Regions from separate parts of the Homo sapiens genome. Here region 2 is linked to region 1. The links come from fine-mapping of genetic effects on gene expression. A gene starts in region 1. The other region holds a variant in brackets. All regions are shown on one strand. Distances are between the middles of the regions.

The links.
Region 2: its variant is fine-mapped to the expression of HPS1 in B cells (CEDAR, PIP 0.95).

What each region holds. Positions count from the first base shown.
Region 1 is chr10:98,445,530-98,448,435 of GRCh38, forward strand. It overlaps HPS1 (HPS1 biogenesis of lysosomal organelles complex 3 subunit 1), which reads right to left and starts at 1,406. Exons shown (of 20, transcript NM_000195.5): 1 at 1,278-1,406. HPS1-AS1 (HPS1 antisense RNA 1) reads left to right here and starts at 792. Exons shown (of 3, transcript NR_134454.1): 1 at 792-1,228. RefSeq lists a silencer at 1,224-1,573.
Region 2 is chr10:98,466,881-98,469,786 of GRCh38, forward strand. All of the region lies in intron 11 of HPSE2 (heparanase 2 (inactive)), which reads right to left. Among named protein-coding and RNA genes, the nearest start is that of HPS1, 21 kb to the left of the region's middle. RefSeq lists silencers at 967-1,016, 1,067-1,166. The variant TC/T (reference allele first, on the strand shown) is at 1,523.

The DNA.
Region 1 (2,906 bases):
AGTCTGCTAAGAACATATCTGGGATCCTGCCCCTCACCTCCCATAATGGAGAATAGGAACCCGGCCAGCACAGCCCTTTGCACAGAGCAGGTGCCCACTTTTGTTCCTTCCTCCTTTGTTCCCATGAAGTGCTCTCACTTCTGCGGGTCACTCAGAGCTCCCCAAGCAGCCCCAGGGAGCTTGCTAGGAGTGACTGACGGGAGACAGCATAGCACATCCCAGGTGGTGAGGATGCAGTCCCGGTGAAGGGAGTGGGGATCCTGGGATGATACGATGAATGGAAGGAAACTAACAGGAAAGGCATCTGGGACCAGGTTCTAGTTTTGGCTTTGCCAAGTCCCATAAACCTCTCTGAGCCTCAAACTCCTGCGGAGAAACAGAGCAACATCCCCTACTCTACCTCCCTACAGGGTTAGATCATGGGAGTGACCAGGCAAGCTGCAAAGTAACCTTAGCAAACTGCGTTCTTACATAGGTGTGGGGATCATTATTCCTATTTCCCAGCTTCCCTTCTTCAAATAACAGGATTAATCAATCTGGTTCCGGAATCATTCATATTTGAATAGAGGGCAGGAACAACAGAAAACTTAATTAGGAAGTCAAGCACTGTGAGCCAGTAAGAGGCAAGTGACTACCCGCCACAGAGACTGCTGTTACGAGTTCGGCCTTTAGCAGCCGAACCCTGAGACGGGCTCCATCACCCACATGATTGGCCCGAATGCCATATTCCCGAAACAGGGGGATGCTTCCCAAAGGCTGCTGGGAAGAGAACCTCGCCGGTGTCACACTGAGACTTCCGCTTCACCTCGCTATCTTGCCCTAGAAAGGGAACTCGGAGGGGACTCACTGACGAAAGGAGCTCCAGATGGCGGGGGGCCAACCTGGGGCGACCCCCAGCGCCCACTTTCACCATCTGGACCCCAGCAAACCTCCCTGTGGCCCTTGGTCCCGTCTTCAGCAGCTCCTTCTGGGGTCCCACACCTTCGGAGCCCGGCCCTGCCCCTGAGTCTCTGGAGAGAGCGAGTCAGCAGTTCGCCGCCGCGGGGCTCCCGTTTGCCTAGCACGCCAGTTTCTGTCCAGTTTCACCCCAAATCCCCACCTCCCCCCACCCCCGAACCTCACGGCCACCCTGGGAAGGAGGCTTGACTTGTGACATCCACCCCTCTTCACGGCTGAGGAACTTTGGCCCCGAGCGAGGAAGCGACCGGCCCACGGCCACACGCCCGGAGTGGGTGAGGCTAGGAGTGGGCCCGCTCCGGGACCCCTAGGGACCCTACCTCACTTCCGGGAGGGTTGAAGGGGGGCTCCGGAGGGAGGATCGCCGCCCCCAGAGGGGACAGCCCGGAGGCCCACGTACCGGATCGCGGCGCGCACAGCGCCCCGCCTGCAGGAGCCCGGGCGCGCTTCCGGGTAGGACCGCGTGATCGCGCACGTGACCGCCCGCCCCGGGAGGGGCCGGAGCCGCCGTCGCCTTCCGCGGGTTCGAGCCCCGCCCCTGCCAGGCCTTGCCCATGCCCCATTTTACAGAAGAGGAAACGGAGGCGCAGAGAGAAGAAATAACTTGCTGAGGGTCCGAACCAGGCTCAGAACCCAGGTTTCCTGGCTCCTCAGCTGATCCCTTCTCTCCTCCCCATGCCCCGGAACCTCAGGCTTTGCCTAATGAACTGAAGTTCTGGGGCTAGAGCTGTCCTTTTGTGACTGCTCTCCCTGACCTTTGGGGAGGTGACATAGCGCACAGAAGGGCTCAGTTGCCCCCAGAGTGCCAACGCTGGAATTTATAGGAGTTCTCAATCTATTTTGGGAGTGGAGTGCACATTAGGAGTTTTGTGTTGAACCTATGTTTGCAATATTTATTTTAAAAAATCGTATGTGTATTGGGGGTGCCTGGAAGTGGAGGGGGCGCTCTGGAAGGGCCTAAATCCCCGAACAGTCCACCCCTCAGTGCCTGGGTGCCACCTGGGAGCTTTGAGCCCAGCCCAGCAAGGTATGGGTTGCAAGAACTGGCTGGGGATATAGTAGATTGAGCATCTCTTGGGGGAAAGGCAGAGGCTAAGAATCAATACTTCCACCACCTGCAGATCAAAGAGAGCATCACTCCCCCCAACCCACTACCCACCCCTTCCAGCCCACCTTAGGGCAAATTCTTCCAACTCCCCATCTACAGCACATAGCCCTGCCACACGCATCTCTTTGCTCAGCCCACCGTTGAGATCGTTCACTCACTATGCTTTCAGTGGTCGAATGAATTCCATCAAATGGATATGCTGTTATTTACTTATTCATTCCCCTACTGGTAATTTCCATTTCCCAACTGCAATGTATGAGGATTCTGATTTCTCCACATCCTCACCAATGCTTGTTATTGTTGATTTTTTTTTTTTTAAGTATAGTAACCCAGCGTGGAGTGGTGTCTTGTGATTTTATTTGCACTTCCCTGACGTTCGGCATCTTTTCATGTGCTTTTTGCCTATTTGTGTACCTTCTCTGGAGAAATGTCTATTCAAATCCTTTATCCATTTTTAAATTGTCTTTATTATTGAGTTGTAAGAGTTCTTTATATGCTCTGGTTACAAGCCCCTTATCAGATACTTGATTTGCAAAAGTTTTTTTCCCATTATGTGGCTTGTCTTTTCACTTTCTTAGTGGTATCATTTGTAGCACCAAAGTTTTACATTTTTATGTAATCCAATATAATCTATTTTTTAGTTATGTACGGGTTTTTTGTGTCAACATGTTTCTTTTTTTCAAATTTGTTTGTGGTAAAATACATATAATGTAAAATTGATCATTAAGCATTTTAAGTGTATTGTTCAGTGGTATTAACTACATTCCTAATGCTATGCAGCCATCACCACCATCCATCTCCACAGCTCTTTTCATCTTTTAAAACTGAAACTATATCCATT
Region 2 (2,906 bases), 21 kb after region 1:
GCTGATCTTAGAACATTGTCTGAAGTCCCCATGCACAGGCCCTATTATCTACTTCTCCAACCGCCAAGAGGCTCACTCTAGCTCCCGCCCCTTCCAGCTCCCTTCCACCCCCACCTCCTTTCATTCTTTACGGCCATTTATCTAATCGCGGCCTAAGCACAGGGGTTTTGCACACGGTTTCCTTCTACCCGGACCTTTCTCCATATGCCCTCCTCCTCCCTTCCAGCTTCCTTCTCCTGGCTAACTCTTACTTGTCCTTCAAGTCAGGGGTGCTCCCACAGGACCCAGTACTTCTTGGATCTCAGCTCCTGTCACACAGTATTGTGACCGCTGAGCTGACTGCTTGTCAGTCTCTCCACTAGATTGGAAGCCCATGTGTCTTACTCATCCGTCACTCTTCTGTCCGCCCACTCACACAGGAGGCGTCAATAAAAGACACATTGGATATAAACACGTGGGCAAAAGAACTACTACCTAGAAGGAAAGACTCTGGACAGGAAGGCCAGAAACCCGTTTTAGTCCAGGCTTGGGACATGAAATGTGCAGGTCTAGGTATGTGACCAGCCGCTTCTGGTCTCAGTTTCTGGATTGTTAAATGATGAGAGAGAGGGAGAGAGGGAAGGGGGAGAGAAAGGAGGAGGGGCAGGGGAGAGATAAGTCCGACTGTGTGTTTGTATGGGCCTGCGCTTGAGTTATCAGCTCCCTTTCCTCCAGTGTGCTTTCCTAGGGGCCACTAGAGGTCACTCTTGTCCTACACAATGGTGCCAGGACAGTCTGACTTCGGGGTGGCACCCAGGAAGCCGGAATGCGTCCGCCTGCCTCCAAATCCCGCACTCCAGTCTCAGGAAGGCCGGGAGATGTGCCCTGCGCTTGGCCTCCCGGAGGAACAAATCACAGAATCAATCAAATCCCAACCAGAACTTCGTTGCGGTCCCGTTGGCAAGGGTCCCACCTGGAATGTGGCCTAATATTAAGGAAACGTGCGAAACGGGACTGCAATTCCTGCAGGGGTGCCGGCTTCCCGGCCAGCGTGCAGAGAACGGGGGGTCCCAGGGCAGGTGCGGGGTCTGCGGCGCCCGCCACGACTCGGCGCTGGGCTCTCCCGGGCTCCGGGTCCCCGGCTGCCCCCGGCCGCCAGTCGGGTCGGCCCCGCACCTGTTTGTGCTTTGCAGGCTCCCGGCCCCCTCGCTGAGCGAGGAAGCTGGTATGTGCAGCTGCCCTGCCCTTCTCCAGGTCAGGGGCAGGTTAGAGTCCCGAGGAGGCCCAGTCAGGTTTGAGGACAGAGGGGCTTTGCTTCCCTTTCCTGCTCGGTGGGGAGACGGTGCATCTGGGGCAGCTTGAACAGGAAGTTCGTCTGAAATTGCCTTGAGTGATGGCTACCACGCTGAGGAAGGCTGCTCAGAAGTGGCCCCTGCAGGTGGTGTCGCCTGGTACCCCATGTCCGGCTGGAGGAAAGGCTCTAAGACCGTCATGACCCTCTCTGGGGTGCTCCCACTCCTCAGGAGTCACGGGGGCAATTACT[TC/T]AAGTGTGTCCTGAACTTTTCTTCTATGTGCTTTTTGCTCTACCTGGAATCCGGTGGAATCTCTCAAAAGCCTGTTCTTCCCTCCAGGCCCTGTCAGAGGTAGCCTCCTGCTTGGGACCTCACCTGATAACAAGCTGGGAGAGCGGCACATTATCTGCATCTCCCTTTTAGCGTCCCTCTCAGGCTTATTTTATCTGTGTGCTTGGGTCATTTTGTCTGCTACTGACTTTTCATTTCTCAATTTTCAATAGTATGCGGCTCAGTGCCTTTTTGTCCATGATAGCTGTTTAGTTAATACTTGTTGAGTTCTGCTCAATCAACTGCTCTAGGAGTCATGCCTGGCTGTATGTTCCAATCTCTTCCTCTACTGTTGTTAACAGAGAGGACTGTAAGGGATAGAGAGAGAAAATGGGGAAAATAGTATCCTGTTCCCTTGCCCTTCCAACAGCCCATACCCTATTTGGAGTTCCTTGTCCCTAAGACATTTTGAGGCTGAGAAGTTTATTTGCCCTCCATCCTACCCTCTGAGGGACACGCTGAAATGGTGAGCAGTTTTGATCTAGCTTCTGTATCACTGACCAGAGAAAATACCAGGACCCTTTATACAAGGAGAGCTGGGGGTTTTGTAGGCAAGTTGTTAGGGATATAGGCTTTTCCTGGATGTAGTGTGGTTTGGGGGTCAGGATTTGATCTGTATTCTATCCAAGTCTGTGTAATAGTGATCCAATCCATAATGGACTCTACCATGTGCTTCTAATGGCTTAAAATAATTTAGCACACTTGGCAGACAAGATGAGAGCCTGACTAAGGAACCTGGATTTATACTGATATTGTTAACTCCCAGCAGATGAGGGAATCATCTGGGGGAAGTTTGGAAAGAAAATCTGATCCTGCAGCCATCTCAAAGCTCCATGTCATAGGCATATCACACTCAAACCACAGGACACAATAGGAACCAGCTATAAAAACCATGGAGACTTCAGCATGTGGTTAACTATGTCCCCCTACCACTGTAAAGAATTGGTGCCATCATCATCAACATTTACAAGTAGTGTTTAAGGGGCATTATTCATAGTTCCATCGTTCTTTTCATTGTACCAATTAAATTACAATAGACTTACTCCTTGTCTTCTAAGAAAACACTGAAATATGCAAATGTCTGAGCAGACACACCATATAAAGATATTACACAAAGAGCAGGAAGGGAGGAAAATCAGACTTAGCCTGGATTTCAAGGCCTTCTGCAGTCTGGGCTTATTATGTGTTTGTGGCCTTTCCCTTTGCCCCACAAAGCATCCTGTATTCCAGTCACATGAGATGATTTGCCACCTCCCAAACAAAATGAGCCTTGAACTTCTGTACTTCCAAACCCTTAGTGATCTC